Linked DNA regions of Homo sapiens. The protein of the gene in region 4 interacts with the protein of the main gene of each other region in a biochemical or structural test. Each region holds a gene or a part of one and is shown on either strand. Other genes may lie near its edges. The genes, in order: NEDD4L, UBA1, RUNX1, UBE2L6, UBA6, ITCH and HERC5.

Region 1 (3,500 bases), on a different chromosome or scaffold from region 4:
ACAATGGCCCGAACTTGTCTCACTGCAACCTCTGCCTCCCAGGTTCAAGCAATTCTCCTGCCTCAGCCTCCCGAGTAACTGGGATTACAGTTGCCTGCCACCAAGCCCAGCTAATTTTTGTATTTTTAGTAAAGACGGAGTTTCACCATGTTGGCCAGGCTGGTCTCAAACTCCTGACCTCAGGTGATCCTCCAGCCTCGGCCTCCCAAAGTGCTGGGATTACGGGCATGAGCCACTGCCCCAGCCTGTTATTATTGTGACAGAGTCTCACTCTGTCACCCAGTCTGGAGTGCAGTGGTGCGATCTCGGCTCACTGCAATCTCTGCCTTCAGGGTTCAAGCTATTCTCCTGCCTCAGCCTCCAGAGTAGCTGGGATTACAGGTGTCCACCACCACACCCAGCTGATTTTTTTTTCATTTATTTATTTATTTATTTTGTAGAGACAGGGTTTCACCATGTTGGCTGGGCTGGTCTCAAACTCCTGACCTCAAGTGATCCACCAGCCTTGGCCTCCAACGTGCTGGGATTACAGATGTGAGCCACTATGTCTGGCCTGAGCAAAATTATTTTTATTCCTTAAATTAAGGAAACTGATGTTCAATAATGAAATAAACAATCATAACATTCTGATTTAATAAAACTAAATATAATGAAAATTCAAATGTCAATGTCTACAAATTCCACAGACACTACATCATTGAAGAAAATAAATTCTATTCATTAGTCTTTTTTTTTTTTTTTTTTTTTTTGGAGACAGGGTCTCACTCTGTCGCCCAGGCTAGAGTGCAGTGGCATGATCTTGGCTCACTGCAACCTCTGCCTCCAGGTTTAAGTGATCCTTCCACCTCAGCCTCCCAAGTAGCTGGGACTACAGGCACGTGCCGCCATGTTTGGCTAACTTTTCTATTTTTTGTAGAGACGGGGTTTCACCACGTTGCCCAGCCTGGCCTCAAACTCCTGAACTCAAGTGATTCTCCTGCCTCGGCCTCCCAAAATGCTAGGATTACAGGAGTGATCACTGCACCCGGTCCCTATAATCAAATTTTAAAACAACATGTTATATTCATGAATTTTAAAAACTGATTTTAAATGTCACCATGAAAACTAGGTCCTTTTAACATTTGTTTCTCAAACATTACCTATATGTCCTGGGTATACAGTCTACCATCCAGCATCTAGGCCCGACACAGGCACTTGGACTTGGCATGACTGGGCAAGCCTTCTCTCTCTTCAGAAAACGGCCTGTCAGCATTCACCTTGAGATCCAAGCAAAATCTAAACCACAATTTTTGAAAGCAATCTTGTCCTCACCGTTTTGCACAGCTGCAAAGATGGCACATAGGGTTTCCCAAGTAATCTCTTGAAAATACACACAGGCCACTTTTTAAAAACTAACAACTATTCTTAATCACTTACAGACGGCCATCCAGTTGGCTATGATCTAGGCCCCCAGTTCCTTCTGTGCTAATGCCTATTTAAGAGCACTTCTCTTTTTCTAGCACTTTCCTCAAACACAGAAAAGCAGAAATCTGACTACTCGTTGACTTAAAAGTACTGAATGATTGGGGATATTGAAACTGATGGCATGGAGTTTTCCCAGGTTTCTAGTCACTGTAATTCATCAATTCTAAAATATCCTTTTTCTCATATTTCAACTTCTCTGAAATAAGGATGCTTCATAAGATGGACAGTATGTCATAACTTGACAGCAATTTTTTCTTCGTGGTACATGAAATAATGGCATATCTTAAAAGTGACAGCACACTAAAGTGAAAGAAATATGGCATCCACGCCAAAGGTTAGCCTTAAAGGTTTGTTATGAAGTGGATAATTATATGTAAACAAGTAGAAAGACCCCTAAGACAACAGAAAGTAGTGGTGACTGCAACCATAGCACAACTAGCTGCCACATCTCAAAGGACATAATGCCAGCCACTGACTGTAACTAGGTTAGAATGTGGCCCCAATTAAGCCAGATTTTTACCATTTTCATGAAATTTCCAAGCTTTAAAACACTCTAGAGACCACATTAAGCAGGGTTCCTGGTCAAATCGGGCCCAGCAGCCATCAGTTTGCAACCAGTGGTGTTTATTTCTCTTACATTATCTTAAATAATCTAGATAGTAAGACCTTTCAAGGCATTTGTCAGAAGGGGAGGATATTCAGCATGTTAAAAACTAGGCCTTTCTATTCAAAATAGCTGGCTCCATAACTTAACTTGTTTTGTGTCCTTATGCAGGTCACGTAACCTCTTTGAGCTTTCATTCCTCATCTGTAAATCACAGCCTACCTCACACAGTTCTCATGAGAACTAAATGACATAGTATGTGCACAAGGCTTAGCACTTTGCTCTCATGGCGCATCTTAAAAGTGACAGCATCTTAAACTGAAAAGCATACAGGATCCATGCCAAAAGTTAACCTTAATGGTTGATTAAGAAGTAGATAATTATATGTAAATGAGTAGAAAGACCCCCAAGCCAGCAGGGAGCCGTGGTGACTGGCACCTATAAGCAGATCTGCCACATCTCAAAGGACATAATGCAAGCCACTGATTGTGACTAGGCTAGAATGTGGCCCCAATTAAGCCGGATTTTTACCATTGGTATAGAAGAGGCATTCAAAAGTAGCCAACTATCCGTGTTTGTACAGGATAAGGAGAGAAGGTGCCATTTATCCTATGTCAGCCTGGCCTTCATTTCTATGCCATTTGCTTCATTTTAACTACTAACGAAATTACTTAATGTCATATCTAATGTGATAAGAAGCTGCCATTCAATCCCAGTATTTTGTTCAGTAGAAAAATCTTTTCAATAAATGATACCTTTCTAAAATGGAATAAAAGATTTCAGAAAGTTAGCGGTAACATTCATAAGTAAACTATGCCAAAATGCACTACAGATTGCCAAAAATAAAGAAATAAAACAAGAAATCCACAAGGACTCAAGCCAGATGCAGAAACTAGTCCAAAGTGTTCTGATTCCAAACCAAATCTGATCTTGGGCCATGAATCAGAAGTTTTGTTAAACTGCTAATCCCTCTAACACCAAAAGTCCTTCATCTGATGGTTTTGAATCTGGCTACCTAAAGTGACATGACTTAAATCAGGGTAAATATGAATTATAACTCACCAGAGAAACCTCCGCCCGAAACACACAGAAAAAATTAAACAGCACATACATTCACACAAGCAAAGCCCACATCTCAACCCCTTACCTTCTACAAAGTGGACAGACCTCTGCTGATGACGCAAGGAACAGCACCTAAGCCCTGTGCTTTGGCATCCCCGTTTTCTGGGTTCATGCAATGCTTCATCATCAGCAGTGCAGAGAGCTCAACAGTCTTTATGAGATGGGACATAACTAAGTGCACTCCAAACATACCATGCTTTTCAACAATCTCAAATCAAAATACGAATCTACTTTTAAGAAATGTGGTAGGTATGTGTGTCTACTTTGCTAAAAGATTTATGAGGTCACTCTTCTAAATAGCGGTCAAAAT
Region 2 (2,400 bases), on a different chromosome or scaffold from region 4:
CTCCATCCCTTAGCTCACAAGCTCAGGAGCGCCGTTCTGGTCTGGGCCCAAACGCTGTCCACACCCGCTCACCTTTGATGTCAACAATGTAAGTCTCCTTTCTAGGGTCTTCTGGGGTCAGGTGGAGGGTGAATAGGTGGGAAGGAGGTGGCGGCTCCCCACTCGAGGGCTGATGTGCTCACCCTTCCCTGCCCTGCCTTCTCCTAGCCCCTGCATCTGGACTATGTGATGGCTGCTGCCAACCTGTTTGCCCAGACCTACGGGCTGACAGGCTCTCAGGACCGAGCTGCTGTGGCCACATTCCTGCAGTCTGTGCAGGTCCCCGAATTCACCCCCAAGTCTGGCGTCAAGATCCATGTTTCTGACCAGGAGCTGCAGAGCGCCAATGCCTCTGTTGGTGAGGGTGTTTGGCCAGTTGGCCAGGAGTCACCCCACATGTCCCCGGCCTAGTCCAGCCTCCCCACCAGTCCTCTACCCCTGGTTCTGCTCTGCTCTGTGACCCCAGGCCTGAGGTTTACCCACACCTTCCTTTGAGCCTCCCTTTGACATGAAGAGGGTAGGTTGGGGCAAATTATCTCCCTCCCTCCTCCTCCTTCCCACTATCTGGCCCTCAGGAGAACTTGCTGTTTTACTCTTGCTCTGTGTATTTCCCTTAGTTTTGTTCTTTCTTCTGTTTCTTCTTGATCTGTTCATCTAGGAGGTATGATCTCTACCAGCAGTCTCTCTCCCTTGATACTTTCCTGCCTTGTCTCCTTCCAGATCCGCCCCCATCTGTACATCTACCTGCATGTTTCTCTGTGCATCTTCACCCTCCATAGTTTGGGGCTGCGGTTTACTGACACCCCCACCCCACCCCATCTGCATATTTTTTCACCACCCCTCCCTTCTGTATATGATGCTTCTGTAGCTCTGTAACGCCCCCTACATTTACCTTCCTTATATCTCCCCCGTCTTCCTCTCCATAGATCTCCTCCCATTTCCCCTTCCATGGTCCCCATCTTCCTTCTGAAATGTCTACTCCTTCATGTTCCTTTATGTATGTCTTCCAATCTTTCCTTCCATAGCTCTCATCACCTTCATATATTTCTTCCATCTTTCTCCTCCCACCTGCCTCGCCCTCTGTATATACCCCCACTCTCCCCCTTTTATATCTTCTCCATCTCCCCCCATATCTTTCCTCTATGTCCACATCTGTGTATTCCCCCCAACTTCCCCTCCATATATCTTTTTTACTCCCCTTTTCCTCCCTGTATCCTCTGTGTTCCCCCCATCTTGCTCTACATCATTCTTCCCAAGATCTTTACGTCTCCCATCTTGATCTCTCCATCTCCACTTTCTCCTAACATTTTCATTTCCGTTCCTTAGTGTCTCTAGAGAGATCATTCTTGATAGCCTCAGCTCTTTCTCTGTGTTTTTCAGGTTTGTATTCTGCTCTGCTCTACCTCTCCTCCTTGCCCCTTTTCTCTCCCAGGATGTCTCTCCTTTCCAAATCCTTTTTGTACCTGAATACCTTTTGCCCCACCCTGGGCTCTCATTTCCATCTCAGACCTTAGCCTGGGATCTAAAGGGCTGACAGTGTCCCTTTCTTCATGCAGATGACAGTCGTCTAGAGGAGCTCAAAGCCACTCTGCCCAGCCCAGACAAGCTCCCTGGATTCAAGATGTACCCCATTGACTTTGAGAAGGTATGGGGTGGGGCTCAGGACAGGGAAGGAGGATGGGCAAAGCATAGACAGGCTGGAGAAAACAGGAGTATCTGGAGCCAGCCCCGGGCCTTTGTGGGGATCAGATTGTGGGCCTGCCATATGGCTCTGAATGAGTAGGTGTTCCCAGCCATCCCTTTGTGATCTGGGAGAGTCCAGCAGGCAATTGCAGTGGAGGATACACATCTTCTTTATCTGATCCTCTCCCCACTGCCTTCACACCCTCCCCACTCATAACAGGATGATGACAGCAACTTTCATATGGATTTCATCGTGGCTGCATCCAACCTCCGGGCAGAAAACTATGACATTCCTTCTGCAGACCGGCACAAGGTGAGGGGAATCTAAATCTGATGTTCCACCCTCCTCCAGGTTTGAGTTACCCACACTTAGCCCCTCTGTAGACCCTGAGGCTCTTGTACTTAACTACCACCTTCTTTTGTCCCTTCTGTCTCTCAGAGCAAGCTGATTGCAGGGAAGATCATCCCAGCCATTGCCACGACCACAGCAGCCGTGGTTGGCCTTGTGTGTCTGGAGCTGTACAAGGTTGTGCAGGGGCACCGACAGCTTGACTCCTACAAGAATGGTTTCCTCAACTTGGCCCTGCCTTTCTTTGGTTTCTCTGAACCCCTTGCCGCACCACGTCACCAGGTGGGGGCCTGCATCCGAAGCAGGGTTTGGGTGGGGTGTATCTGTGT
Region 3 (3,500 bases), on a different chromosome or scaffold from region 4:
TAATAATCATTAATAATGATTTAAAATGTGTACATTGATTTTTTTTAAATTCCAAAATACAAGCGTATATGGTAAATTAAGTCAAATGGTATGTTCAGTGAGCGAGATGGGCTTGGGGCAAAACAATACTTTGCTTCCAAAGAGGATACAACTCTCAAGGAGATTCTTTCATCTTGCCTTTAAGGTCATTTAAACTAATTCACATAATCTTCAGAAAACTAATTCACATCATCTATTCATGTGTAAAATCAAAAGGAAGACTGTTTTCTTAGTCTCTCGTTGCCTAACTGGCCATTTATACTACTAGGTTGATTAAGGGATTTGCCTTTTTCTGCTGATATGGGAACAAAAAGTCTTAAGCATTTTTAAAGGCAATGGAAAATTCAGCCACATGGGGGAAAATTGATATTGTCACCATTGAGTTGCTCTGTTTCTTGGTGAAGAGTGAATCTAATCTGATTTCCTTCTTCATCAGATATGCCTCTTTAACAACAAAAACAAAAAAATGGGGGGAAGTTGCACATTGAGTTCTCATCCTCTGAAGCTCCTGGGCAAAAGCATTATTGTGGACCGTGTGATGGGCATTCGTCAGCTCTTTGGAGACCTATATGCTTAGTAGAGTATCAGGTTTAACACTAAGCATCGCCCCTTTTTTGTTCCTCTTGAAAACTTTTACTTCTGCAACATTTAAGAAATCATAACTCGCTTTTAGAGTTCCTACGGGCTTGGTTGCTACTCTAAAGAATGTGTGAACTATATTGCTGGTGTTCTTTCTTTCCAAAATATGAATTTGATATTCAGTACTTCACTTGTAAAATTTTAGGAACAACTTTTAAAAAATAAGTATCCAGAATATTTTCATGTGAAACAACTTTTCCTTTTCCTTTTGTTCTTTCTTTCCTATAAGAAAACGCTGTTTTACGCTAATCATGTTTTGAGTAGACCCTTGGGCTTTTTCTCTTGAAATTGGAAAGTTAACAGGTATAATATGCAAGTCTTGTTCAGCCAAGACCTTCAGTTTGTTCTTGACAGTAGGAAAATGCTTATTTTCCAGGCTCAGCCCTGAAATTTCTATGTTATATTTACGAAGATACTTTAAGAAATACAGCATGTGTTTCTGGCTTTCTTTGAAATGGCAGTGGTAGTTTTCAGAAAAATATCCAATTTGTCAGAGTAGTTCCACAGTGGTGCTGTCCAGATGCATGAATGTTTTTCAGCTTTACAGAAATGTCAGTAACCGGGGGTTTGGCGAGCTTGCCGGGATTTATAGAAAGGCTCAGGAACCCTACCTTGCTAGGACTTTGTCAGAAGGGTTATGCCAGCTCCTCTGACTCTGTCAGCAAGAAAATACTGATATAGAATAGCACCAATACTTACCTAGAATCACATGTGCTGGAGGGTCACTCAAAATAGACATCTCAAATTATCTGAAGCACGGTACAGATTGAGAGGGGGCAAGTTGTCATGCCACTAAACCACTGTTTATTTGTTGGGGTCTTAACTATTAAAGGGCTGAGGTTTATTTCAACTTCCTATTTTACCAGGTCTTAAACTGGTAAAGCCATTTTGTCATGAAATAGAATAGAAAGCCATTTTGTCATGAGTAGACCCTTGGGCTACACGTTTCTCCCAGTCAGGACACCATCATTAACTTCTACGATCGAGTCTTAGAATTCTTTTTTAATTTATTTCAAAAGATAGAACAGGGCAGATTCTAGAGCTAGTGGTACCGATGCCTGTTCAGTCACAACTCCCACCTAGAGATGGGTTTGGGCAACCCGAGTGAGTGATTTTAAAATTTCACCCCTGATTGACCAAATATGATGTATCACATTTAAGGTGTCGTAATTTCCTCCTTTCTGGGAATATGAGGATGGAGTAATAGATGCTGGTACAGAAAACTGAAACCTAGATAAACTAGGAAGCCCATTTTGTTGTTCTTCTGCATGCTGGTTGTCATAAGCATGTAGGAAGAAGATTTAACTCTTTAACTGGACCAGTTGTGAGCTATTTTGACGTGGGTCAGACATTTGTACATATTATTCCATTCCCTCAACAATCCTGTGGTATCATTTATAGACAGAGAAATCGAAATTCAGAGGTTAAAAATTGCCCAGTATCTCAAAGATTGTAAGTGATGAACTTGGACGCAAACCCAGACCTTCCTTGCTACAAAGCCAGTGCAAGTGGGATGGCCGTTCCCTGGGCGTGCACTCTTGGGTCAAGGATCGATTTACTACAGGGCTGACCAGTGTCGAGAAGAATCCCAATCACCAAAGGAGGGATGGAAAAAGTGTTGGGCTATCCACTCACTTGGCATTCTTGTATTGAACATGTTCTATTATAATTAGATGTTGATAATAAGAAGAATTTTGGGGCCAGGCTGTGTGGTGGGCACCTTAATAAACTGTCTCCTTTGGTACATGTGCATTTGTTTATAAAGTTTGGGAGAAAAGAAAACTCAGAATAATGAATCTCTAAATAAGAGTGAAAGAGGGGGTATATGAGCAGGGAGAAGGCTTACCAGCCACTCTGTTTACTTTATTGGGGCCATTGCCTTCCTACTTTTGAAGTTCATTGGGACCAAGTGCTTATCATCCAAACCCAGTCAACATCTAATCCACTTTTATGAGTATGCGTGCCTCACTTTGAGTGTTCCATATGGCCAAGAGGGGTCCCTGACCTCTCAAATCATCTCTTGATTTTTAGTATTCCAAGTAACTTCTGTCTTGCTAATTATTTTCCCCCAAAATTAAAGTTACTTAGGAAGGACTATATTCTGGTGCTGCTGTCTGCAAAACTCTGAGATACTGAAATGACCCTGTTTCTCAGTTGTATAGAGTTATTTAAGTCCGTCTGATTCTCTCTTTATCATCTGGATAGACAAAAGGAAGAAAACCTTTCCACCTTCCTGTAGGAGAAGGAGATAAATCCTCTTTCCAGCCTTGGAGGTAAAATATCCAACTGCATTGCATTGCTTTCCTTTCTCTCTCCCTCTCCTTCCCTCTCTTCCTTACTCTTCTAGCAATTTGAAGTTTGAAAACAAAGGGAGTAGGGACTATTTGATTACCTTGAAAGTGGAGGCTACAATCAAACACCAGAAATCCTCATATGTGAATCTATAAATGGTCATTTAATGGTTACACAAAGTAACATATTCAGAATGTGAGAAATTAATTTATATAATAGGCTATAAACATGACAGGTGAATGATTTCATTTAAAAATAGCTTTTAACAAGGTGTAGTAGGGTATGAGAGCCTTTCCAGGTCTATAGCATTATAATCTTACCCCGACAACAAGCCTGAATCAGGTGTTCACAGGAATAAATAAAAATAATTAAAGGAAAGAAGGGAGAGAGAGAGAAGAAATGAAAACCAGTGGGATGACTGCAGAGATTCACTGCAGGGCTTGATCTTAGTGATGAAATATTTCTTCTGTAGACTGCATATGTTCTGAACTTTCCCCTTATGCTTGTAAATATGTAGGCCAGCACACCCA
Region 4 (3,256 bases):
GGAGGAGGGACTGATACTGGGTAGAGATTACTGGAGAGGGGGTTCACAGCTTATTCTGAGCTTGAAAAGCCCCAAAGAGAGGAGATAAAAATTGTGAGTCTTGGCTGAACTTACTATGAGATAGAAGGGATGCTTCCTGGACAGACTGACCTCCTCCTGCCTCTCTTCTTATACCTGTGCAGTTGTGACAGAGGAACGTTGCTGCGGTTCATGGGAGAGGCAGCTTGGCTGCACAGGGAAGGGCTCGGGAAAAGAAAGCCCGCTGTTCCCTCTGTGGACTTTGGGCAAGTTTTCGTTCCTTTCTGGGACTCGGTGTCCTAAATGACAGTGGAGGGAACTGGCCTCATAATGATAATACCTGTCACTTGACTGAGCACTTTCGGCACTGTGCTAAAAACATCACCTGCCGACTTCATTTTTATTTCCCCAACAAGCCCGTGAGGTAGTGTTGTTTAGTAGACCCGGACATCTGAGGCATGTGAGAGGTGAAGTGGTTGCCTAAGGTCATACAGATGACAAACGGCAGCACTTGGCTGACTCGCAAGCCACATGTGGCTGTTGCAACTGAAGAACTCAATTCTTTTTCTTTTTTAAGACAGAGTCTCGCTCTGTCGCCTAGGCTGGAGTGCAGTGGCGCGATCTTGGCTCACTGCAACCTCCACCTCCCAGGTTCAAGCGATTCTCCGGCCTCAGCTTCTTGAATAGCTGGAATTACAGGCGTATGACACCACACCCAGCTATTTTGTATTTTTAATAGAGAGGGGTTTTGCCATGTTAGCCAGGCTGGTCTCGAACTCCTGACCTCAGGCGATCCGCCTGCCTCCGCCTCCCAGAGTGCTGGGATTACAGGTGTGAGTCACTGCGCCTGGCCAGAACTCAATTCTTAATTGTACTTAATTTTAATCCTTTTTGTTTTTTCTACTGAGACACGGTCTGTCTCTATTGCCCAGGCAGTTAGTTCAGTGGCGCAATCTTGGCTCACTGCAACCTCCACCTCCTGGGCTCAAGCCATCCTCCCACCTCAGCCTCCCGAGTAACTGGGACTACAGGAGCATGCCACTATACCTGGCTAATTTTTGCATGCTTTGTAGATACCAGGTTTTGCCATATTGCCCAGGCTGGTCTCAAACTCGTGAGTTCAAGCCATCCACCCATCTTGGCCTCCCAAAGTGGTGGGATTACAGGCGTGAGCCACCGTGCCCAGCCTGATTTTAATTCATTTAAATTTAGATGCCTGCATGTGGCTAATGGCTACCATATTGAACAACACAGCTCTAGAGCCTGTGGCTGAATCAGTGTGCAATCCTCCACCTGGACCAGCTCAGGAGTTTTTAACTCAGGAAATGAAAGTCCTTAGGTTGGTGGGAGTGGGAGCAGGGAGAGGAGTGGTCCTTGGATGAGCTTCAGGGGGTCTGGGAACTGTCTGTTTTGCATGTGGATGTGCACATCTGTCTCGGGAGATGGGCTGCTGCCTTCACTAGGTTCCCAAAGGCATCTGTGAAAGATGAAGAGCCAGGGGGCAGTGGTGGTTTTCAGTCTTTAGCCTTAGACCTCTTTTGCCCAAGGAAAAGTTTATTTGGACTACCAATATAATGGAGGAAAACAGAGCAGTTTTTGTTGAAATGGGGATAAGACCCAGAAACCTCACTTATCTCAGTGGCCCCTGTGATGAGGAGCTTCTCTGAAGCCATGGAATGTAGTTGTTTGAAAACCACTGATGTAATCAGTCAAGGCCTTGGGTGTCACCAGCCAAGAATGAGCGGGGCGTTTGATCTGGTCGTAGAGTAATCCTAAGCGATGTAACCTTTCCCCCAAGGAGTGAGTGTGGAGTGTCAGGACATTGGGAACGGGCAGCCATGACTCCCTTCCCTCTGCCCTGATATCCTGATCTGGCCTGTCTCTCCCCAGTCCTGGAGGCCCTCAATGTGCTGGTGAATAGACCGAATATCAGGGAGCCCCTGCGGATGGACCTCGCTGACCTGCTGACACAGAATCCGGAGCTGTTCAGAAAGAATGCCGAAGAGTTCACCCTCCGATTCGGAGTGGACCGGCCCTCCTAACTCATGTTCTGACCCTCTGTGCACTGGATCCTCGGCATAGCGGACGGACACACCTCATGGACTGAGGCCAGAGCCCCCTGTGGCCCATTCCCCATTCATTTTTCCCTTCTTAGGTTGTTAGTCATTAGTTTGTGTGTGTGTGTGGTGGAGGGAAGGGAGCTATGAGTGTGTGTGTTGTGTATGGACTCACTCCCAGGTTCACCTGGCCACAGGTGCACCCTTCCCACACCCTTTACATTCCCCAGAGCCAAGGGAGTTTAAGTTTGCAGTTACAGGCCAGTTCTCCAGCTCTCCATCTTAGAGAGACAGGTCACCTTGCAGGCCTGCTTGCAGGAAATGAATCCAGCAGCCAACTCGAATCCCCCTAGGGCTCAGGCACTGAGGGCCTGGGGACAGTGGAGCATATGGGTGGGAGACAGATGGAGGGTACCCTATTTACAACTGAGTCAGCCAAGCCACTGATGGGAATATACAGATTTAGGTGCTAAACCATTTATTTTCCACGGATGAGTCACAATCTGAAGAATCAAACTTCCATCCTGAAAATCTATATGTTTCAAAACCACTTGCCATCCTGTTAGATTGCCAGTTCCTGGGACCAGGCCTCAGACTGTGAAGTATATATCCTCCAGCATTCAGTCCAGGGGGAGCCACGGAAACCATGTTCTTGCTTAAGCCATTAAAGTCAGAGATGAATTCTGGAGTGCAGCTGAGTCTTTGATGAGGGGATGGGGTGGTTTCATCAGGACCATAGAGGACTAGGGATTTAAGCATAAATTTCTGACCTTGCTTCCCTTGAATGTTCCCTAAACATCATAAGGAATGTTGGCCATGGAAAAATAGGCCATCCTTGGACAGAGGAGCTTTCAGAAGGTCCACAGGGGTGACGTCCCCATTTTATTTTATTTATTTATTTATTTATTTATTTATTTATTTATTTAAGACAGAATCTCACTCCGTCGCCCAGGCTAGAGTGCAGCAGTGCAATCTCGGCTCACTGCAACCTCCGCCTCCTGAGTTCAAGCGATTCTCCTGCCTCAGTCTCTTGAGTAACTGGGATTACAGATGCCCGCCACCACGCCTGGCTAATTTTTGTATTTTTAGTAAAGATGGGGTTTCACCACATTGGCCAGGCTGGTCTCGAACTCCTGACCTCAGGTGATCCACCCGCCTCAGCCTCCCAAAGTGCTGGGATT
Region 5 (3,500 bases), on a different chromosome or scaffold from region 4:
TCAGAATCTTTAAGTGCGGCCCTAGTTATTATACCATATTACATCATTACTCTATGTAATTATCTATGAAGCTATGTAGTTATTTACCCCTGTATTAAGTGATTTTAGACTGTTGTTATTTTTTGAGTTACAGCATGTGCTTTCAAAATAGGGAGACTGTATGGTTGAATTAATATTTTTTTAAATAACTGTTAACATGTATAGAGTAGGTTGAAAGTTTGAAAGTATAAAATATACTAAAAGTATACAGACCTGTAATAAGAAATTTATATTACTATAGTCCCATAGCTGCTTTTACTATCCACAGAGAAATGCTTGAAAACGTGAAAGTTGAATAGATGCAATTAAAATCACGGATAGTTTTAGGCTGTTTATATTATCAGATCACCTTCTTTTATCTAGGTTGCCTTGGAGATGATCAAAGTAACTGGTGGCTATCCATTTGAAGCTTACAAAAATTGTTTTCTTAACTTAGCCATTCCAATTGTAGTATTTACAGAGACAACTGAAGTAAGGAAAACTAAAATCAGGTATGTATGAAAGTCTATTTCTCTTGTATAATGAGAATGAAATAAAATATTTTACCTTTTAAAAGGGAAAAATACTAGCTTCACCTCTTTTTTCTTCTATTGTGTATGTGTAAATTTTTGCCATCACTTCAAGATCAGCTCAAACCTCATCTTCATTAAATATTTCTGACTAAAGTAGCCAAAGAACCCTTACAGCACTTTATCTGCCACATTATTTGGCATTATGGTTTCATCTGTGTCTGCCAGATGAATTAGAAGGTACCCTGGTGTCTGACTGTAGGTCATGAGATTTAGAAGAATTCCACAAGCTTGAGACAAAGCAGAACAATTCCTGGGCCTGTACTTTTTAGTTTTCAGATTGGCAACAACCAAAAACTTGAAAAAAAACCTACCTTAACAAGGGTGTGAGAAAGCAGACACTCTCATACATTACTAATGAGAGTACAAAATACTATAATCCACAGTAAGGGATATATAGCACTATATTTCAGATACATTTGCACAAGTCTCAAACTATATATTTGCAAGATAATTATTCTGGCATTATTTATCGTGGCCAATGATTAGAATAACCGAAGTGTCCAGTAATGGGGTACTGGAACATCCACACAGTGAAACCCATTTTAAAAAGAGAGAGACAACACTGTCTTGCTAAAACATACTGATTTATAATACACTGGAAGGATCAGCAAGGTACTGATTAAAAGTGGTTATCTATATGATGTGATGAAGAAATAAGATTATGGAATATTTTAGAAGATATATTATCCTTTATTTCCCCACATTAATTTCTAGCCTGATCACAAATAATGGACTTCTGAAAGTGGGTTTTTTTTGTGTGTGTGTCATCACTAAAAGGAAGAAAATTTCAATGTTTCTGTTCTGAATATTTTTCTGTAACAGAAATGGAATATCATTTACAATTTGGGATCGATGGACCGTACATGGAAAAGAAGATTTCACCCTCTTGGATTTCATAAATGCAGTCAAAGTGAGATACTTTTGTTCATTTAGTTCATTAGTAGCTTTATGTCTGGTTTCTGTTTTGTTTTTATTTATAATTTTATTGGAAGTTATAATTATTTACCATGAATTTGCTTTTTTTACTGGTCATAAAACATTGTTTACGAACAATGTTAAATAAGCATTTTATGTTTGAGCGAGGCTTTCATTGTTTCTTTTTTGGATATTCACTTTTAGGAGAAGTATGGAATTGAGCCAACAATGGTGGTACAGGGAGTCAAAATGCTTTATGTTCCTGTAATGCCTGGTCATGCAAAAAGATTGAAGTTAACGTAAGTATTCAACATTATATGCAGCGATTAACAAGAATTTAAATGTAAGTTGATGCACACTAAAAAATTAAATATAGAGGTTACTATAATTCAGATAAAAGCATTAGTCTTGTCTAATGACATTAATAAAGACAGTGAATCTGCCAGGTGAAGGCCAACAGGCTACCTCTCGAGAGATTCAGCTCTTCAGTTAATAGGTTTAGAAACCTGATTTGGCCAGTACACTTAAGTAAAAGTGGATCCGTCTCTTATGTTGAGACACTTAATGACCAGGCTTATGAGTAATCTAACTGCCAAATCACTATTTTTGTTCATTTATTCAACAAATTATTGTTTAAGGTGCCAGCTGTGTGCCAGGTACTATTCTAGTCATTAGGGAGATAGCAGTTAGCAAACCAAAGTTCTTTCCTACTTAAGGAGTTTGCATAACAATAAGGCAAGTATGTTAGGTGATAGTAAGTATTATGGAGAAATTAAAGAAGAATAAAGAGAAAAGGAAATATGGGGAGTTGGGGGTGTTGAGTTGCTATATTATACTGAGTAGTCTAGGTTTTCCCTTTGCCTATCATAGTCTCACCTGTTAAGGTGGAATTTGAGCAGAGACTGAAAGGAAGAAAGAACCAAAGAAAGCTAAAGTCTTTATCGTGGTCTGCAAGACTCTAAATTTAGATTCCTAGTTATCCTTCTAAGTTCCTTCCTTACTTTCCCTTCACAATATTCCAGCTACACTGGCCTCCTTATTTGTCCTTGAATACTCACTCTAATCATGCTCCAGCATGGGACCTTTGCTTTAGTTGTTCCCTCTGCTTGTAACTCTGAGACAGTGACCTGGCCAAGTCTCACCCCTGGTCTTTGCACTTCCTAAAGAGGCCTCATTTAATACTGCAACCTGTCCTCAGCCCCAGTCTAGTATGTCTAGTCCCCTTTACTCTTCTCTACTTTTTCTTTTTTTCAGAGCACTTATTACTGTCCTATGACTGCTGTGCTGCTGTGTATTTTGCTTATATTTATTGTTTGTTTGTTTTTGAGACGGAGTCTCACTGTGTCGCCTAGGCTGGATTGCAGTGGCGCGATCTCAGCTCACTGCAACCTCTGCCTCCTGAGTTCAAGCGATTCTCCTGCCTCAGCCTCCCGAGTATAGCTGGGATGACAGGCACCCAACACCACACCTGGCTAATTTTTGTATTTTTAGTAGAGACGGATTTCACCATGTTGGCCAGGCTGGTCTTGAACTCCTGACCTAAGGTGATTTCTCCCGCCTCAGCCTCCCAAAGTGCTGGGATTACAGGCGTGAGCCACTGTGCCCGGCCCATGTACTGTATATTAGCTATTTACCTGCTACTAGAACATATATTTCACAAGAGTGGGAATCTTTATTTGATCTTGTCACTGTTGTATCTCAAGCACTTAGATCAATACCTGGCAAATAAAAGGTTACCAACAAATATTTGTCAGACTAGTAAATGAATCTCTGCATGATGGTTGTGTTTAACGTATCTATTGGCTTTAACTATGATAATCAGTTGAGGTTAATCATTCTTAAATTATGATCTAGTCTGAATTATCTGTACCTTAAAAAGTAAAACTACTATTTTATTAGCTAAGGCATTAATTTGCCTTATATTATTTTTCATTAGGATCCCTCAGTATCTTTTGGATCAAGCAAGGCTAGTGT
Region 6 (3,500 bases), on a different chromosome or scaffold from region 4:
CTCACCCAGTCACGCAGGATGGAGTGCAGTGACAGGACCTCCAGAGCTCAAGTGATCTTCCCACCCCAGCCTCCCTGAGTAGCTGGGACAACAGGCATGCATTAGCATGCCTGGCTAATTTTTAAAATTTTTTTGTAGAGAAAGGTTCTCTTTACGTTGCCCAGTCTGGTCTTAACTCCTGTGTTCAAGTGGTCCTCCCACCTTGGCCTCCTAAAGTGTTGGGATTACAGGTGTAAGCTACTGTGCTCTGGCTAAAAATTTTAAGTATAATGCTAAAAATTTGGAATTTTATGTTGGTAGAAATAGATACAGGGCTGGGCTCAGTGCCTCACACCTGTAATCTCAACAGTTTGGGAGGCTGAGGCGGGTGAATCGCTTGAGCTCAGGAGTTTGAGACCAGCCTGGGCAACATGGTGATATCCCGTCTTTACCAAAAGGAAGGAAAAAAAAAAGAAATAGATGCAGATTTTTCGACAGGGAAATGATGTGAGTACATATGTGTTTTAGAAAATTGCTGTGTACTGCAGGACAAAGATAGGTATCAAAAAACAAAAAAAGAAAGATTGCTCTGGTGATGAGCGAAAGGATGAGGGACTAGCTATTGCAGAAGTCTAGTTGAGAAATGACAAAGCCTGACCTTGGAGAGAGGTTGTGGGGATGATCAAAGGATTGGATTTAGCTTTTTACTAGTGCAATATTGTTGCCATATTTCTAGATGAGGATTTTTTTTTAGAGCTAATCTGGGTAAAGGGCTCCTTTTCTGTCAAAAGAACCCATTAGCAAGTCTGAATAATATTGCCAGGTTATATATGTTATGTATAGTATGAGAGTGAATTGTTCATTAGCATCTTTGAGAAATTAGAAAGAACTATGTCAGGTGTAATTTGGAAGAGAACTTGAAGTTTGTTATTGTTACTATTTTTGAGATGGAGTCTTGCTCGGCCATGCAGGCTGGAGTGCAGTGATGTGATCTCGGCTCACTGCAACCTCCACCTCCCGGGTTCAAGCGATTCGTGTGCCTCAGCCTCCCAAGTAGCTGCCTCCCAAGTAGCTGGAATTAGAGGTGCATGCCACCAAGCCTGGCTAATTTAGAACTTGGAGTTTGGACTGAAATTTATGCCTCTAAAAAGTATTGATCTAGGCTTGTTGGGAGTGTTTTTCTCTCAGCCTGTAGAAACTTGCTCATTGAGTTTTAGAGTTGGGAGAAGTTACAGAGATTATCTAGTCCATAATGGCAAATATATTTTGGTTTATTGGCCAGCTCTAATTGGAAGCTGCCAGAAGCACTGTGTTTGGAAGGATTCTGGTTGTAGGTGCTCTGAGAAATTGTATTATGGTTGATCAATGATGTCTCCTGTGGACAGTTACCTAGTAGGTAGTAGACATGTGCCAAATATATGCTATTCTTAGATAAGTCCAATCTCTTAGTTTTCTGTTTTGTTGTTGTTTGTTTGTTTTAAAGGTTAAATAATTTACCTGAAACTAGTTAAGAGTAAGAACTAGAACTAGAACTGGGTTTTGCAACTCTGGGACTGGTATTCTCTGGTTTACAAAGATCAATGTGCACTACTGAAGAGCTTCTGGTATTAGACTAGAAAAAGAAAAGGGAGATTTTTAGCCTATGCGTCTTGACTGTTTAGGCAAGAGTTTAACAAGGAATTTTGGCCTAGAAGTAAGTTTTGTTATATTCATTCTGTCTTAAGAAATTTGTGTTAGGGCCGGGCGCGGTGGCTCATGCCTGTAATCCCAGCATTTTGGGAGGCTGAAGCGGGCAGATCACGAGGTCAGGAGATCGAGATCATCCTGGCCAACGTGGTGAAACCCCCATCTCTACTAAAATACAAAAAATTAGCTGGGTGTGGTGGCATGCACCTGTAGTACCAGCTACTTGGGAGGCTGAGGCAGGAGAACCACTTGAACCTGGGAGGCGGAGGTTGCAGTGAGCTGAGATTGTGCCACTGCACTCCAGCCTGGCAACAAGAATGAGACTCTGTCTCAAAAGAAAAAAAAAAAAAAATTCGTGTTAGTACTGATAGGAAATAGTCATCTGTTTTGTTGTTTTGCCACTTTCTTTCTTGTTGCCTAAGTCTCTGTTTTGGGTTTTGGACATTGGTTTCCTTTATAAGAATTAAGACAAAAGTATGTAAGGTTTTTTTTTTTGTATTTATAGTACTTAGCCAAATTCTGGGCTCATAATAAGCACTCAGTAAAGGCATGTTGACTTTTATGGCTGTAAATGATACTGGCTTTGAGTCAATATAAATTAGTTAGGGGGTTCACAGAATTGAATTGCAGCATTCTCTGGTTGGGAGGTTGGCTTTCAGCTAAAAACGTTAAGTTGGAAACTATCCTCACAACTAGAAGCAGTTAACCAGAAGCTGTTCCTGCCTCTATCCTCCTCCAGTCTAGCAGTGTACTGTCCTTGAAAAACTGCTGCCAGCTCAGCTTTTTTGCTTCTTTTCAGAACTGACTATATCCAGATCCTTGGTGTGCGTTTTCTTTTCCTGTCCCTAGGAGTCTCCAAGTTGCAGGGACTATCATTATGGTGACCCTTATAGGCTGGTGTATTTATATGGCCATCCTCATTTTGCCAGATAGCCGTCATACTCAGATTGGTGTCTTCCCATAATACGTATGAATCATTTTCCCTCAGTTCTTTCTTTTGTCCTGTCTGCTCCATTAAAAATTGTCTATCCCATGAAATTTTTAAAAGAGACTTTGTGCTTTTAGAGTCGCAAGGTCGTTGCAGATCTGATGTGTTTAACTATAGAGGTCAGCTGGGTGTGGTGGCTCACGCCTGTAATCCCAGCACTTTGGGAGGCTGAGGTGGGTGGATCACGAGGTCAGGAGTTCAAGACCAGCCTGACCAATATGGTGAAACCCCATCTCTACTAAAAATACGAAAGTTAGCCAGGCGTGGGGGTGCACGCCCGTAGTGTAGTCCCAGCTACTCAGGAGGCTGAGGCAGAAGAATCGCTTGAACCCAGGAGGCGAAGGTTGGAGTGAGCCAATATCATGCCACTGCACTCTAGCCTGGCGACAGAGCAAGACTCCATCTCAAAAACAAACAAACAAAAAAATATAGAAGTAATGTGTTAATGGACTCTCCTTCCTTTCTCAGGTACCATGCATTTCACGGTGGCCTTGTGGAGACAACGCCTTAACCCAAGGAAGTGACTCAAACTGTGAGAACTTCAGGTATGGTGTCATCCTGTGAGAGAAATTGGGGGCAAGAGTGATGCAGAGGCCAAGCTCTGGTCTTATACCTGCTGTGAGGAGAGAGCAGTGTTGATGCTAGCTGCATCAGTTGGTTGAACATATAGGCAGCTTCACTTGGTTCTGAAACCCAAAGCTGCCTCTGCAGGGATTAGCCTGTGAGCCACACTGTGCTCTTAATTTGGGTTTTCTGACTTTTCTGTTTTTGTAGATCCCTTATACATATGCATACTTTTTCTATTTGTGTTGTTTTATACACGTTTATCTCTGTATACTATCTAGAC
Region 7 (3,500 bases), on a different chromosome or scaffold from region 4:
TTTCCCTATATTAGTAATAAGACACTGGTTAAACCAAATCACATGGTATACATACATACAGCCTCTTTCTTTACAGCATGAGACATGATAAATACCACATCTTATAACTATCCTTCCAACCTCTCCATTTGTCTCCTATCTGTATGCATATTACCTTGGCTTGGCTTCTAAAAGTCCATTCTGTTTGGTAAATCTCAAAATTTCAGTGGCAAACATGGGAAATAAAAAAGTTTATACATACTCAGAGAAGCCTCAAATAAAGAGGAAAGGCTTGATTTATGGTCAGAACTTTCTTGAACAAACAAAATACTCCCACCCCACCAACTATGCAAGTCCTATTTATTTCTATTCCACTGAAGTAGAAATAAATTACCAGAAATTAAATGGGGGAAGGAGTATGCTCAGTTTCATCTTAGAAGTAGTTGTACAGTTCTTAATTATTTATGCTCTGCAAATTATGATGCAACTATTTTGTGCAACTACTTTGTACAATCATTTTCCAGAATTAGAAAGCCATACCTAAAAATATTTCTAAAAGATGATGTTTGTAAGAATAGGTAGGAGTTCTGTAAACCTATAGGAGTTCTATGGTTTAGAGAAGAATGGTACAAATTGTTCAGCTAAGAATAACAGGTACACAAACTAATGGTTCCAGGATCAAATGGGACTGGGAAACACTATAGACTCTATTTTCTGGCCAGAGAGTCACAATATACATAAACAGAGGCCTGGAGAAGCCCTACAGTAAAGAAAGCTGTCCTCATGGCGCTTACATGCTAGTTGTGATGGGTTAGTTTTATATGTCAACTTGGCTAGGCCATGGTACCAAGATATTTGGTCAAATATTATTCTGGATGTTTCTATGAAAGTATTTTTTTAGATGAGATTAACATTTAAAATGGTAAACTGAGTAAAGCACTTGAACAAGTGAATAAAAAGAAAGGACCTTCCATAATGTGAGTGAGCCTCATCCAGTTGAAGGCCTTAAGAGAAAAGGCTGAGGTCACCCAAAGAAGAGGAAATTCTGCTTTTAGATTGCCTTCAGACTTGAGCTGCAACATCAACTCCTCCCCAAGTCTCCAGCCTGCTGGCCTGCCCTACAGATTTTGGACTTGCCAGCCCCTACAATCTCATAAGCCAATTCCTTAAAATAATCTCTCTCTCTCCCCTCCATAGATACATAGATGGACAGACAGACATGATAGAGATAAAGATAGAGACAGAAATACACACATATCCTATGAGTTTGTTTCTCTGGAAAACCCTGACTACAAAATCTCATATTGCTGTGCAGAACCAGTTTGGGAAATGATACTTGAGAGTGATATATAAGCAGAGAGTCAGACTGTGGGGTGTACCTTTTTGTGCTCTGCCACCGTTTAGTCTCCACATCAGCAATCCATCTCTTTACAGTCCCTTCATTCAGAGTAGGAATTGTCCTCTTCAGATTAACATATGAATTCTGTAAACAAACAGGAAAGTAAAATACAATAATTTAGACACATCAGAGATAGGCACCCAACTTTTAGGTACACTCTAGAGAGTAAAACTGACTTTTAAATATGTGTAATACAGCCCTGGGACAATCACAAAGTGATACTCAACAAATAAGTAATCAATCATTTGCCTGGTTGCCACTTTCTTGTCCAAGGGGGCTTAGACTGAAAGTAAATTTCTTTGAGGACTCAACACTCAGCACTTTATACAAATACAATCAAATTAAACTGAACATCAGACAGCCTTGAAGGGAAGGGAAGATCCTGAAAGAGCTGTGTGCAGAAGTGTGAGGAACTCGATTTCACTTGGTGAAGTAGGGCAGGGAAGTTATGGACTTTTTATTTGCAAGCCCATGAACCTTGGTGTCTTTCTTAGTACTGGCCTGCAAAGTCATTTTTAGAATCTGTCACTCTGTTGTTTGCAAGGATACTGACCAAACATCATTGGCAAGTAGCCCCCAAAAGGTAAGTATAGCCTATGGAAATCACACTGATTAGACATTCACCAGAGAAAAATCTGCTGATTTTTGTGGGAAAATACTGATGTAGTTTAGACAATAAAGGATCAGTAATGTCCAGCTATCCCCCAAAAAGTCAGCCTGGTAAACTGATGATTTTGGAATTCACCAAACTGGGATACTAGAACCCTTAGTTTTGCTTAAAATACCAGGTTATAGAACACCTGGAGATCTATTTTTACCTCTTTCTTTATCCAGAGCAAAATGCTTTGATTCCCTCCAGCAATCATTATTAACTCCTTTTCTGAGGTATGGCTTTCTGAAAGGATGCACAAAGAGTAAGAGTTTTAGAAAGTCATTTGGCACAAACATGCATGTTCAATTTAAATAACTTCAGATTCTTCTTAAACGTAGTCATCTTTTCTTCTTAATAGACAAAACTTAGTACATTTTCTGCCAATTAAGCAGCTGAAATACATATCCTTTGGAGTAAAGTCTAGTTGGCAAACATAGGTAATTCACAAGGTGGACATGTGACATCAGTTTAATATACATAATACAAATATTTATATATAAAATGCAAATATTTGATTAGCTAAATGTTATCAGTTTAATTCAACTCCCATTACTAAAAACCATGTTTTCAAGATTTAAGCAATGACTGCTGGCTATAAAGAATATAAGTACTTTAAGCCCATGTAACTGTTATAAGGAATCAAAGATAATACATGCTGCTTAAGGAAATAACTCTGTTCGTTTTCCTACAAGAAATGAGTAGATTTTGTTACTTGAGGTCACCACTAAGCTTTCAGAAACAAGTAACAGAAATGCTCCAAGGTGCTTCTACAATGGAGTGTTTCAGAGCTCAGACTCTGAGGTCATAAAGGGCACGGGTTCAACTCCAGACAAACCACTTACTGGCCATGATTAAGTGGCTAACCCTTTTCTCTCCAAGTCTCTTTATCCTCCAGTAAAAGAGGAGTGACAGAATACACCTCCCAGGAACTGTTACAAGGATTGGTGAGATAACACAAGTAAGTGCTGAGCACAGTTCAGTGCCAGGTATACGTTGATTGCTCATTATTCTGAGGGTTTTATATGACTGTGGATCAACTTAACCAGGGCAACCAGCCAATTACAAGAATTAGTAAACAACTAATTACAAGAATTAGTAAGTCTCTTGCAAACTGGAATGAGAGCTGCATATGCCTCTGAATCCATTGTCTATTTTATCATTTAAATTCACATTAATCCTAATCTGAAGGAGTAATATAGAATAATTATTTTGCCTCAGTAAATTAGACTGACTCTTGAATTGTTTACCAGTAAAAAATGAAACCAGTATTTAGAGAAACTCCCTTCATAGTCATATGTTGCTTTCTTTGCCACATTACCTAGTTAGAAAAATCATTTTCTCTAAAAAGATACTATGCCAAACCCTATGTTCCTATAGAATTTACCAAGTTTGAGTTCTTCACTTGATGATACTTTCACTGGAAGCGGCATCAGCTGGTCACGTGTTCCACCATTTCCCAGTTGTCCATCT

What was found.
Region 1: the proteins of UBE2L6 (region 4) and NEDD4L form a complex in vitro, tested with the Homo sapiens proteins (one study listed by BioGRID).
Region 2: of the proteins of UBE2L6 (region 4) and UBA1, one has a biochemical effect on the other in vitro, tested with the Homo sapiens proteins (2 studies listed by BioGRID).
Region 3: the proteins of UBE2L6 (region 4) and RUNX1 form a complex in vitro, tested with the Homo sapiens proteins (one study listed by BioGRID).
Region 5: of the proteins of UBE2L6 (region 4) and UBA6, one has a biochemical effect on the other in vitro, tested with the Homo sapiens proteins (one study listed by BioGRID).
Region 6: the proteins of UBE2L6 (region 4) and ITCH interact in a test that uses a peptide from one of them, tested with the Homo sapiens proteins (one large-scale study listed by BioGRID and IntAct).
Region 7: the proteins of UBE2L6 (region 4) and HERC5 form a complex in vitro, tested with the Homo sapiens proteins (one study listed by BioGRID).

Annotation. Positions count from the first base shown.
Region 1 is NC_000018.10:58,047,226-58,050,725, reverse strand, and holds part of NEDD4L (E3 ubiquitin-protein ligase NEDD4-like), read right to left. Parts: exon of another isoform or gene 3,216-3,500; intron 1-3,215. UniProt on the Homo sapiens protein: E3 ubiquitin-protein ligase that mediates the polyubiquitination of lysine and cysteine residues on target proteins and is thereby implicated in the regulation of various signaling pathways including autophagy, innate immunity or DNA repair.
Region 2 is NC_000023.11:47,210,829-47,213,228, forward strand, and holds part of UBA1 (ubiquitin-like modifier-activating enzyme 1), read left to right. Parts: intron 1-13; coding exon 14-88; intron 89-207; coding exon 208-397; intron 398-1,595; coding exon 1,596-1,684; intron 1,685-1,942; coding exon 1,943-2,035; intron 2,036-2,161; coding exon 2,162-2,353; intron 2,354-2,400. UniProt on the Homo sapiens protein: Catalyzes the first step in ubiquitin conjugation to mark cellular proteins for degradation through the ubiquitin-proteasome system.
Region 3 is NC_000021.9:34,829,303-34,832,802, reverse strand, and holds part of RUNX1 (runt-related transcription factor 1), read left to right. Parts: intron 1-3,500.
Region 4 is NC_000011.10:57,551,162-57,554,417, reverse strand, and holds the end of UBE2L6 (ubiquitin/ISG15-conjugating enzyme E2 L6), read left to right. Parts: intron 1-1,908; coding exon 1,909-2,060; 3' UTR 2,061-2,756; downstream 2,757-3,256. UniProt on the Homo sapiens protein: Catalyzes the covalent attachment of ubiquitin or ISG15 to other proteins. Functions in the E6/E6-AP-induced ubiquitination of p53/TP53. Promotes ubiquitination and subsequent proteasomal degradation of FLT3.
Region 5 is NC_000004.12:67,621,156-67,624,655, reverse strand, and holds part of UBA6 (ubiquitin-like modifier-activating enzyme 6), read left to right. Parts: intron 1-402; coding exon 403-530; intron 531-1,433; coding exon 1,434-1,521; intron 1,522-1,730; coding exon 1,731-1,825; intron 1,826-3,500. UniProt on the Homo sapiens protein: Activates ubiquitin by first adenylating its C-terminal glycine residue with ATP, and thereafter linking this residue to the side chain of a cysteine residue in E1, yielding a ubiquitin-E1 thioester and free AMP.
Region 6 is NC_000020.11:34,366,273-34,369,772, forward strand, and holds part of ITCH (E3 ubiquitin-protein ligase Itchy homolog), read left to right. Parts: intron 1-3,121; 5' UTR 3,122-3,198; intron 3,199-3,500. UniProt on the Homo sapiens protein: Acts as an Acts as an E3 ubiquitin-protein ligase which accepts ubiquitin from an E2 ubiquitin-conjugating enzyme in the form of a thioester and then directly transfers the ubiquitin to targeted substrates.
Region 7 is NC_000004.12:88,467,119-88,470,618, reverse strand, and holds part of HERC5 (E3 ISG15--protein ligase HERC5), read right to left. Parts: coding exon 3,415-3,500; intron 2,989-3,414; exon of another isoform or gene 2,913-2,988; intron 2,274-2,912; coding exon 2,197-2,273; intron 1,463-2,196; coding exon 1,359-1,462; intron 6-1,358; coding exon 1-5.